Linked DNA regions of Homo sapiens: all the other regions are linked to region 1. The links come from fine-mapping of genetic effects on gene expression. A gene starts in region 1. Each other region holds a variant in brackets. All regions are shown on one strand. Distances are between the middles of the regions.

Evidence for each region. PIP is the estimated chance that this variant, and not a neighbour inherited with it, causes the effect.
Region 2: its variant is the best candidate, but not a certain one, in a credible set for the expression of CD53 in whole blood (INTERVAL, PIP 0.59).
Region 3: its variant is the best candidate, but not a certain one, in a credible set for the expression of CD53 in whole blood (TOPMed, PIP 0.79).

Annotation. Positions count from the first base shown.
Region 1 is chr1:110,871,018-110,875,017 of GRCh38, forward strand. CD53 (CD53 molecule) reads left to right here and starts at 2,131. Exons shown (of 8, transcript NM_000560.4): 1 at 2,131-2,231. It also overlaps a transcript of LRIF1 not described here. RefSeq lists enhancers at 1,332-1,381, 1,982-2,091, 3,604-3,653.
Region 2 is chr1:110,890,934-110,895,285 of GRCh38, forward strand. CD53 (CD53 molecule) reads left to right here. Exons shown (of 8, transcript NM_000560.4): 2 at 459-538; 3 at 1,412-1,600; 4 at 3,394-3,468; 5 at 4,027-4,122. The coding sequence starts at 476. It also overlaps a transcript of LRIF1 not described here. Among named protein-coding and RNA genes, the nearest start is that of CD53, 20 kb to the left of the region's middle. The variant C/T (reference allele first, on the strand shown) is at 2,805.
Region 3 is chr1:110,896,980-110,900,979 of GRCh38, forward strand. CD53 (CD53 molecule) reads left to right here. Exons shown (of 8, transcript NM_000560.4): 7 at 830-913; 8 at 2,145-2,943. The coding sequence ends at 2,216. It also overlaps a transcript of LRIF1 not described here. Among named protein-coding and RNA genes, the nearest start is that of CD53, 26 kb to the left of the region's middle. The variant C/T (reference allele first, on the strand shown) is at 2,228.

The DNA of each region.
Region 1 (4,000 bases):
GCTCGTGAGACAGAACTAGATTGATTTGTTTAAGCAACTAAAAGGAATTCCATATCCAGTGTTACCCAGTGTGAGGAGATCTTGGGGGTGGGGCCGGGGAAGAAATAGCCGGCTGAGAGTTTTAAGCTGGGGAGTCATGTGATTAAATTTGCATTTTAGAAGGCTCTCCTCCCTTCTTCCTGAGGACAGACTGAAGAAACATCCAAGGTGGTCTTGAAGGACACTGGGATCCTGTAACACAGGTAAAAGATAAAGACTAATGTAATTTCTATGGGGTTGGAGAGAGGTGGTCTGGTTTGAGAAATATTTAGGCAAAAGCATAACTGACAGGACTTGGTGGCTGATAATAGGTGGTGGTGTGGGAGAGAGAGTAGCTTAAGAGGACACCTGGTTTCTCATGAACGTGGCTGAAAGGCCAGTCAGGCCTTTCCTGGATGGTGGACATGGTGGGAGGAGCAGGCTTGAGTGTGGGGATGCCAAGTTAATCAAACTGAAGTTGGATATTGGATTTGAGGTGCCTGGGAGAGAGTGGAGCTCAAAGGAGAGATCATGGCATCTATATAGATTTGTGAATCTTTGGAACAGACAGATAGTAATTAGAGCCATCAGAATGGGTGAGATAATTAGGAAAATATGAGTTCAGCCAGAAGCCTCTCCTCAGCCCCACCACTTCAGGGACCTGTAAGCATGGCAGCAGCTCTGAGTGAGGGTCAGTGATTCCAGCCGAGGTGCAGAGACTTTTTAATAGCATTCCCTAAAGTGTAGTTACACTGAAAAATTGTTCCCCAAGAGAAACTACACACACACACACACACACACACACACACACACCACACAGTTCCATGCTCAGATAAGTTTGGAGAAATCTATATATTATTTCCCCTGCTTAGAGAATATTAAGGACTGACAAGTTCTGCAGTAAAGACCTTTTTACCTTCATTTAATTCAGTTTTCCCCACAAGACAGCCCTGGCTGGAGATTACTCTGGATCTGAATGTCTCAGGGTGAAGGAAGCGGGAGACAGCTAGCTTTCCCAGAGGCATGCCCGCAAGTCAGCACCGCAGAGTGCATCTATCTGTTCATTTATAAGATGAAAACATTGGGGCCCAGTGATTGCTTCCAAGTTTCATAGTTAGCTAGTGATACATTTGGGTTGTCACATACTCCTTTGACCCAATCTAAGAAAATTCCAGTGATGCAGCATAGTGAAACCAGAAACACATTTTTCAAAATATATTGATCACAGTGTTTCTCAAAAGGCCTTCTCTGTGACCTTGAATTTTAATCCTACCTCTGACATGTCTTAGTTGTATGAGCTTGGGCAAATTTTCTAACCTCTTTGAGCGCCTGTTTTCTTGTATATAAATAAGGATGTAACAGTAACCAGTAGGATTATTATTAGGTGTTACCATTAATAAACTGAGGCTGACAGATTGAGACTTGCTCAAGATCTCACAGCTAAAAGAGATAAAGCTGGAACTGAAACTCAGATCTTTGGCTCCAAATGTGGTGTTTCCTGTACTAACCAAATCATTTCTACCAGTGCCCCTGGGATTATGCCTTGGGGACTCACCTTAAGACAGTCTTGCTCTCGAGACAGAGAAGTCTGCAAATGGTGTCCAATTCAAGTCTAGAGACTGGCTGAAGCCAGACAGAGGGAGTATGAGGAGGGGGCAGAGAATCTTCAGAAAGACATTCCAAAGTCTCGGGCCTAGAAAATGTTTAGAAATATTGGTTCCTGTGTTCCCCTCCAGTCTGTCTACCTGAATGGGAAACTGGTGGTGGGGCCAGGCATACTTCTTTTTGAACAAATACACAGTTAATTCTGAGATGCCACCTTGATTGAGAAGCACTGTCCTTTTCTAAGCAAAAATCATTGCCAAATTACCCTAGAATCCACCACTGCTCACAGATCTGTGCCTGAACCAACTTGGTTTTGAAGTTTTCTTTTGTTTCACAAAACTAGTTTAGGGTGGGCTGTGAGAGGAAGCTTCTAAAAAGCCACTGGGAAAGTACTAAATCTCTGAGACTAAAGAGGGCGGACTCAGCCTCACTTCCTCCTTCTTCTCATCTGGGCTTCCTGTCGTCACAGCATGATCATATTTTTTCACCCTTCACTTCTCCTTTTACACAAATAGCCCCGGATATCTGTGTTACCAGCCTTGTCTCGGCCACCTCAAGGATAATCACTAAATTCTGCCGAAAGGACTGAGGAACGGTGCCTGGAAAAGGTAAGGTTGATGACGTTTTAACTTGGCTTGCTGTCTAATGTGGGGTAGGGCGTATTCTTAGGGGTCTCCATATACCTCTCTAGTAACCATAAAATCTCCGGCAACTTCTCTTTCACAAATATTTAGTGCACAAAGTAAAACAGATTAGCAAGATCCTAGTAACATCCCCAAAGGCAATCAGGCCAGAAATACTTTTACTTAATCAGGTTCCCATTATCTAAATCTCTGAGTCGAGGCATTCACATGCCTTAATTGCTTCAGAGCTTGAATTACTCTGTGTAGTAATTCCTGATGCCTGGAGCTTTCTATGCGAGATGACATTGGGGAGATTTCCTATGTGCTCTGGTCTTCAGAAAATTGGTCTTGTGATTTTAAAGTGAGGAAAGAACCCACAGCCAGAGCTGTCTTTAGAAAGACAGCTAGAAGACACAGTTCTTTTTCATTTGAGAAAATTTCAAAAGTAAATTTAGTGACTCCCACTGTGGTTCTTCAAAGCCACTAAATAGAAAGGTGGCTAAAAATCAAAACACCAGGATGTGCTCAGTAACTGTATTTTAAAAGGTGAAAGCTAGACATCTCTAAAGGATGCATAGATTGTTGGCTTTTAAGGAGCAGGAAGCACATTGGGATCCTCAGCATTTCCCCAAATTATCCTTGGTGTACAAAACATGACCACTGATAAATGTCACATGAAATGCACGTATAAAATGCAATCCCCAAAACTTGATACTGCAGTAATTTCCAATCATGTGCTGTAACTAATGACTGAGGTTGCATGGACTCAGCAAAGTGTTAGCAGAGCTTCGGTCCTGACTCTCTGTGACCACCATCGGAAACTCTATGTAAGAGCTTTCTTCTTCCAAGACCTGTGAGAATTTCACTTGATTATGCCCTGGAGCAGAAAGGAGAAAGTTCTCTTTGATTACACCCACCCATCTAAGTATGAGGATTGGGAACAGGGCAGAGGGCTCTAGATTTCCAAGAGGGGTGGGGACGGGGAGAGGGCTCTGGATTCCCAAAACACCTCAGAGTTTATTGAGCCTTGTATTAAAAAATAAAAAGCAGTCTTTTAAATAAATTCACTTAATAATCAAGTGGTAGGTGCCTCCTGAGGCCAGGCACTGTGCTTTGGGAATTGTGGGGGAGGGAGATGAAAAGGTAGAAGGAGAATATTTGTCTAGCAAACAGTCCTACTCTTAAGGAACTCCCATGGGAGATAAGAGATATCATACTATGCGTGTGCTTTGGAAGAAAGCTGAGAAAAAGCAAACTCCCAGCTGCTGGACAAACAAAGAGGTTTTGCTTTCTCAATCTTGAGGAGAATCTGTACTATTTTGAAATTGTGGTTGAATGGGAGCAAAGACTGAACTGAAACATTATTTCCTGTGATGTTTCCTGTGTGGGCCAGTTAAGAACACTTAATTTTTAAATGAAAGGATTGGGTACCTTTATATTCATGAGGAATGATTCCAAGTTCATGCCTTCACAGCTATGGTTACCACCACCTAAGTGACCTCACCTTTGTTCACTGACAAGAGGCACAAACTGGAAAGGACAAAGTCTGTTGGTCCTTGGTTTTTTGTGCCCTCTGATTGACCTCTGACTGCACAGAGGCCCTCGGACTCTGGTTCTCCTTTCCCACTCCTACCCCATGGCCAGATATGGCACTTGGTGCTGGAGATACAGGATAACAGAAAAGATTATCATCTGAAAGGAGTTGTAGAGTTTATTATGGATGACAGTCACAGCAATATACAAATACAGTGCAA
Region 2 (4,352 bases), 20 kb after region 1:
ATCAAATGTAGCATGTACATAAATCACAGAGTATTTAAGAAACTGGCTGATCAAGCTGTTGGCTTTCTTGATGGCTGATTGACCAGTCCATCCCTGACTTCAAGGGCTTAAGTGCCCAGGCACTAGTTGCTAATGCTGCAGTTAGAGCTAAAGCACTGGCCTGGTCTCTGTCACTGTGACTCATCCTCTTCTAAGAATGGCTCTATTTTCTTCTACAATACTTAATTCAATGTTAAGCATTGTTGGCTTGCCGAATTGGGCAAAAACTGAATGTCTAAGATGAGCCAGTTGGTATTTCAGTTTAGAACTAGGAAAGCGCAGAGTTTGGGGAAACTTTCCAGAGGAGAGCCACAGCTCAAACCCAAGGTAATGCTAGAGATCCCTGAACATTTGTGCACTCTGATCTCTGGCTACCTTACAGAGTGAGGTAACTTACTTTCTTCTTCCTTATTCCTTAGGGCAAGAATATCACGGCATGGGCATGAGTAGCTTGAAACTGCTGAAGTATGTCCTGTTTTTCTTCAACTTGCTCTTTTGGGTAAGTGTATCTCTTCTGAGCACGGTTTAGCTCACCTTTACCCAGCTAAGCTCTCCTCATTCCTCTACTGAAGAGGCTGGTGTGGGGTAAAATGCATGCGTGTTTGGGTCATGTCCAGCACAACCATCCTAGAAACAAAAGAGTAATAATTTTTCCCCTCTTCCTGCCACAGAATAAACCTGCAAAATTGAAAGGTACCAGTGCAGTTATTAATGGAGGTGCTGTTTCTCTCTGAGGGCTTTAGTTTACTACTACTCGTAGCTAACATATATAGGTGAGAAACCTGAGACTGTGCTCTGGATATTGAGTGCCTCTGTTTTTCTTGTCTTTTTTTCTAGATTCCTTGAAACAATAAGTGATTGAAAGGAAAGTCACCCTTTCCAGGGAGGTTTCACTGTATAAAATTCAGCAATTGAATTTCAGATATAGGATGGGTTGGTACTTGTGTATATGAGAAGATTATTATAAGTTTGGCTTCTCTAGTTTTCTGCCTAGCAAGATGAGCTTCCTCAAGCAGGGCATCTTCTCTACATGGTCATGGTTTCTACAGAGAAAGCCATGTGTGAGCGACTGAAAAGATAAGGAAAAAGAAGTTAGACCTATATATGGTGAAGATACTGTGTGGCTCACAGAAGTGATCTTTCCTTGGTATCTGGAGATGGGTAGGAAGAGTTGTGAGTAGGTCTCCACATGAGAAAGCTGAGATTGCCTCTCCAATGTAAGCATGGAAAAGTTTGGTAAAGAAATTGTTCATGAGACTCTTGATTGAGCCAGTTAAAAATAAAGTGATTCTGATCTCAAGGAAGTGAGAATATGAGGAGATACCCAAGAACCACATTTTGCTTCAGGATGTTGTGGGATTCTTCCTTTCAGATCTGTGGCTGCTGCATTTTGGGCTTTGGGATCTACCTGCTGATCCACAACAACTTCGGAGTGCTCTTCCATAACCTCCCCTCCCTCACGCTGGGCAATGTGTTTGTCATCGTGGGCTCTATTATCATGGTAGTTGCCTTCCTGGGCTGCATGGGCTCTATCAAGGAAAACAAGTGTCTGCTTATGTCGGTGAGTCCTTACAGCAGATGTGGTGCCCCAAGTCGGGGAGATGGTGCCTAAATCCCAGGCAAGATGTTTCTTGGTAGATCACTTATAGGCACAGAAAGATCATAGGAAAATGAGATTGGTACCTCAGATCAGCCAAGTCTGCCCAGACCAATAGTATATTATGTATGACTAGGGTCCCACGGACAGGTGAAAGAGGGCATTGCTATCCCCCTTGTAGCCATTTTTATATTGCTAATAATGACTTTTGTCATTATTGTAATTCCCCTTTATAGCATTTTATTTTTTCTTTATGTCTGGATGAAATCAGGTGTCATCCATCTTCCAAAATCCTCCTCATGCTAGCTATTATTATGTACTTTCAGATTCTGACTGAGAGTCGCTAACTAATGGAAAATAATTTCTAGGCTCTTTCCTCCCCAAATGCCAAAGGATGCTTCCTTAACTCATGTCTGCACAAGATACTCCGTAGAGAGATCCAACTTAGGTGAGGGCTCTGGCTGCAGCCATTGAGGTCTAATGTGAGAGATGCTACAGCCTTTTGCATGTTCCCTATCAGGTACTATCCTGAGGAGTACCTTAAGGCTTAGGTTTTGCCTGTAAGCACAGTGCCTGTAGAGCACTGAGCTCTACATTTCTGTAGTGTTCCCAGAACAGAGCTTGGTGTAACAGTGCCACTCTACCAATAGGCGTGGGTTTCTAATCACATTGGTTCTTCCTTAAATCATTTGGTTAATCTTTTTTCCATTATGGTTCAACATTTTGGTGGTGGTTTTTTGTTTTGTTTTTTTCTTCTTGTTGTTGTTTTGGAGATGGAGTTTCACTCTTGTTGCCCAGGCTGGAGTGCAATGGCATGATCTCAGCTCACCACAGCCTCCGCCTCCCGGGTTCAAGCCATTCTCCTGCCTCAGCCTCCCGAGTAGCTGGGATTACAGTCATGCGCCACCATGTCCGGCTAATTCTGAATTTTTAGTAGAGACAGGGTTTCTCCATATTGGTCAAGCTGGTCTCTAACTCCCGACTTTAGGTGATCCACCTGCCTCGGCCTCCCAAAGTGTTGGGATTATAGGCGTAAGCCACTGCGCCCAGTCTGTATGGGTCAACTCTTAAACTGGAGCCAAGAGAAAGAATTTTTTAAAAAGTCCCTCTTCTCAGATAGTTGTCAGACTAATGGCAAAGGATGGAAGATAGCAGACATGGGGTAAGG[C/T]AAATGTTTTAAGCAGTCAAAATTAATGTTGGGGTAAAAAAGGTGAAGGAGAAGGAATAAGTGAAAATGTTTTCTGTTGTGTGTTATTAGCATAAAAGGAGTAAGCATCGAAAGCTGGAAACAAATATGAGTTAGAACCATGGCTAGGACCCTTCTTTCTACCATTGTACAGGGCTCCTCTCAGCCACTACCAGCAGTCCTCCACCCAGAGGTATCCCTGATCTTGTAGAAAGGACCAGGCCCCAAATGATCTAGTTTACCAACCTTTTGCTTAACTGCTTCAATAGGCAGATGTCAAAATTGCTTAACTTATTCAACAGGTGGTGGTGTGTATGTATTATGCATGTAGTGCTCTGATAGGCACAGCAGGTAGGAGAGAGCAAAGAAGACAGTTGATCTGCCCTCTAGAGTCTAATTGTAGAAAAAGAACACATATTTTCACAAAACAAAAGAAGGCTTACAACGGCCTGAGGAGGCAGAACAGGAACACCCTGTACTCGTGCAAATGCCCCTGGATGCTCCCAGAGCTGAGTGGGAGTGGGACGAGAATGGGGATCAGTGCTGTGAGAATGTATCTGCTTTGTCCCAGTTCTTCATCCTGCTGCTGATTATCCTCCTTGCTGAGGTGACCTTGGCCATCCTGCTCTTTGTATATGAACAGAAGGTAAGTTATAAAGACAACAACTTATTGTCTTAATACTGAAAGTGGGGAGTATGCAGTGGAGAAGTTGGTACAAAGTTACAGAATAAGTTCTATAATAGAGATAGAAATGAAGTGGAAGGATAGAGGAAACAGAGAGTAATTGTAATTGGGGGGAAAATTTGTATGAAAGAGATTGTATCTGAGTGGTATCTTGAGGGGTGCCTGGAAAGAGCAGTAAAACAAGTGTCTCTTCCTCTACTTGCTTTCCTCTGTGTGTTTGGCAGGAGAGAATGTCTGCCTCAGTGCCTAAGGATAGCCCTTGCTTTAATTGCTCCTTTTCCTCCCTTGTAAAGCCAGAGCTCTAGAAGGAAGCAAGCCTACTAAATACTTCTTCCTTCAATGCCACCTCATGCTCAGCCTGTATGCCCATAGATAAACACCCTCCCCTCACCCTTAGTTCTGAGGAGACCATTTGGAAGGGAAGCGCAAGTGGAACCACTAACCTATACTGGAAATTCCTTATTCCTTGAACTCACCTGCTTTTTACCATGTCTCCTCTGCTGGAATGTGCCTGCCCAGCTGAATGAGTATGTGGCTAAGGGTCTGACCGACAGCATCCACCGTTACCACTCAGACAATAGCACCAAGGCAGCGTGGGACTCCATCCAGTCATTTGTGAGTACAGGTGGAATCCTCTTCAGATCAGCCCAGACTTCATTTTCAAGCCTAAATCCTTGGGGGCTAGTTCCTTTTTCTGGAAGTTTCAGAATCTAAGGTCCACATCCCTGAATCCCAGAATAATGCCTTGGCTATCACAAACATGGGAGCCCAGTAATTAGTCTGATTAGTACAAAGTTCTCTACATTCTCTCTTTCATCCTTTTCTAACATGAATAGGTTTATTTT
Region 3 (4,000 bases), 26 kb after region 1:
ACTTTTGTGTGAAAGTAGGAGAGGGTTGTGTCTAGATATTTCTTAAGCAAGAAGTAGGTCTCCTTATGGTTAAAGTGAAATGTATAGGGTTGAGATAGAAAAGTTTCTCCCTCTCCCTCTTTCTCTGCTCTTCTTCCTTGGAGATGGCAGAATCCAGCCCCTTAGGGAAATGAATCATAGGTGAAGGAGTAAGGAGTTGAGGGAGACAGAGTTAGTGGAACTACTGAAACAACCTGTCCAATTAATTTGGACCTCCAGAATAGGCTCTGAGAAGAAGCCACAACTATCTTCCAACTAGACCGAATCCCTGAGGTCTTGTCTCCTCATGTTATCTGCTCCTGAAGGGGTTTGGAAATCTCCAGGGTTTTTCAGGTTTGTGGAGAAAGACTAGGACAACCACTGACCAGCAACTGCCCTGGCACTTGGTAGGGCTATGATGGATTTACTGAATGTTGAAGCAGAAAGTGAAATGCAAACCAATTTTAGTATTGCATGCCCTATGTTAATCTCTGGTCAGCACTGAGTGTTCAAAGACAGTAGGACGTCGGTTGCTGACCTGCCTCTTAGAAGCTAGTTTAACTCAGCGGGTAAGGATCTAGGACTTCTACATTAGTTACCACTGTAATGATAACACCACCAGAAAAGTCTGTAGTTTAATATTTCCCACCTTATGCCTGTTTCTTCATTCACGCAAAGAAAATAAAAATATAATACCTAAGCCTCTTTGTATTACATAAAGCAAAATGCAAAGCACTGTATCTTCCAAATACTTCCTCTTGATATGGTGGAATTATAGAGTAGTATCATTTGTAACTGAAATGTCTTCTAGGGTTGCTATGCGAAAGCAAGACTGTGGTTTCATTCCAATTTCCTGTATATCGGAATCATCACCATCTGTGTATGTGTGATTGAGGTAAGAGCTTAACCACAGGGTTATTGTGAGGATTACATGAGTTAAGTCAGGTAAGATTTCAGAATAATACCAGGTACACAGTATTTACACAATAAATGTTAGCTATTTTTACTAATATATGAATTCCCCCAGCCAAGTAGCAAATAATGTAATTAACAATTTGCTTTAAGGTATATAGAAAATGTGCTATAAGAACATCTCTTGGCCGGGCGTGGTGGCTCACGCCTGTAATCCCAGCACTTTGGGAGGCTGAGGCAGGCAGATCACGAGGTCAGGAGATCAAGACCATCCTGGCTAACATGGTGAAACCCCGTCTCTACTAAAAATACAAAAAATTAACCAGACGTAGTGGCAGGTGCCTGTAGTCCCAGCTACTTGGGAGGCTAAGGTAGGAGAATGGCGTGAACCTGGGAGGCGGAGCTTGTAGTGAGTCAAGATCGTGCCACTGCACTCCTGCCTGGGCGACAGAGCGAGACTCTGTCTCCAGAAAAAAAAAAAAAAAAAGAACATCTCTCTGGTCAATTCATTCCTCAGAGATATGAGTGATTCACATGATTCACAGTCAAACAAAAAAGCCACCAAGCAGAATCCCACTGTGATCCCTCCTCAGCTGGTCTGAAAAATACGAATTGATAAAGTATTTCATTTGAAAACCTGATCTTGCATGTTAAGGGGCTGATGACGAAAATTGTAATCAATTTCCTCTTTGTTTCTGTGCTTAGTTTGACAAGTGATGGGTGAATTGAGGGTAGTTTTTTGTCCTTTTTAATAAAAAAGGACAAAAATAATGTGATATTTCTAACATTTTTCTACCCAAAGTGTTGGGTATATCATAGATTAGTTAAAACTCAATCAGGAAGCTCAGAGAAAATGATTTTTCTCTGTTTGGAAACAAAGGAGGCACAGAGCATGGATAGAGATAACTCATTGCACAGTGTTCAGTGAGCAGAATATGACCATCCTAGCAGCAAGGCTTCTGTGACTTCCTCAGAAGATAAAACATGCTCCAGTACTTTACAGCCTGTTATCTTGTCATCATTGACCCCGTTTCTCTCCTCACTGCTATTCTTTAACCAAAGGAAAGAGCTCCTGAGAGAGACTTGAAAGTAATGGTTGGAAGGGTGGTTTCAGTGTAATGGATACATTCTTTTTCTCAGAGGCCAATCCCAGGCATTGTGAAAGAAATGGCTTTTCTTATGAAGACTTCAAATTTTCCCAACTCTTTTCACAGGTGTTGGGGATGTCCTTTGCACTGACCCTGAACTGCCAGATTGACAAAACCAGCCAGACCATAGGGCTATGATCTGCAGTAGT[C/T]CTGTGGTGAAGAGACTTGTTTCATCTCCGGAAATGCAAAACCATTTATAGCATGAAGCCCTACATGATCACTGCAGGATGATCCTCCTCCCATCCTTTCCCTTTTTAGGTCCCTGTCTTATACAACCAGAGAAGTGGGTGTTGGCCAGGCACATCCCATCTCAGGCAGCAAGACAATCTTTCACTCACTGACGGCAGCAGCCATGTCTCTCAAAGTGGTGAAACTAATATCTGAGCATCTTTTAGACAAGAGAGGCAAAGACAAACTGGATTTAATGGCCCAACATCAAAGGGTGAACCCAGGATATGAATTTTTGCATCTTCCCATTGTCGAATTAGTCTCCAGCCTCTAAATAATGCCCAGTCTTCTCCCCAAAGTCAAGCAAGAGACTAGTTGAAGGGAGTTCTGGGGCCAGGCTCACTGGACCATTGTCACAACCCTCTGTTTCTCTTTGACTAAGTGCCCTGGCTACAGGAATTACACAGTTCTCTTTCTCCAAAGGGCAAGATCTCATTTCAATTTCTTTATTAGAGGGCCTTATTGATGTGTTCTAAGTCTTTCCAGAAAAAAACTATCCAGTGATTTATATCCTGATTTCAACCAGTCACTTAGCTGATAATCACAGTAAGAAGACTTCTGGTATTATCTCTCTATCAGATAAGATTTTGTTAATGTACTATTTTACTCTTCAATAAATAAAAGTTTATTATCTCAATCACAACATTGCTATATATCAAACACTCCTTCCATGACCCAGCCTGATTACCCTGATTAATGCACCAAACCAGGTGTATTAATTGTCTCCTGCTGCATAAAATATTACTCCAAAATTTAGTGGCTGAGGACAACAAACATTTATTATCTCATGGTTTTTGTGGGTCAGGAATCTAGGAGCAGCTTAGCTGGGTGATTCTGGTTCACAGTCTCTCATGTAACTGCAATCAACATGTCAGCCTGGGCTGCAGTAACCTTAAGGCTCAACTGAAAGAGGATCTACTTTCAGGCTCTCTCACATCGCTGTTGGCAAGCCTCAGATCTTTGCCACTTGTGCCTTTCCACGGGGCTTCCTTATGACATGGAAGCTGGCTTCCCCCCATTTAAAGACATCCAAGAAAGGGCATGAGATTCGGCACCCAAAACAGAAGCCACAGTTTGTTGTTTTTGTTGTTGTTGTTTTGAGATGGAGACTTGCTTTGTCACATAGGCTGGAGTGCAGTGGCACAATCTCGGCTCACTGCAACCTCTGCCTCCCAAGTTCAAGCGATTCTCCTGCTTCAGCCTCCTGACTGGGACCACAGGTGTGTGCCACCATGCCTGACTAATTTTTTTGTGTGTTTTTAGTAGAGATGGGGTTTCACCATGTTGGCCAGGCTGGTCTTGAACTCCTGACCTCTGGTGATCCACCTGCTTCAGCCTCCCAAAGTGCTGGGATTACAGGCATGAGCCACGCCACAGTTTTTATTTATAACCCCAGATGTGCCACCACATCAGTTCTGCCATACACTGTTTTAAAAAAGTGAGTTGAATTGTTCAGCTCACACTCAAAAAAAAAAAAAAACAAAAAAAAAAGGAGATTATAGACAAGGGTATAAATCTGTAGCACATAGAGATCACTGGAGGTCATCTAAGAGGTTGCCAACCCCACCATATTTGTTTGGTCAAAAAAAGAAGCTAAATTGAATTGTCTATAAGCTAAATTTAATTATCTACGTATAACCACACTTTGTAAGGCAGAAAATAAGACCATATCTAATAGGGAGCCAAATGTAGAG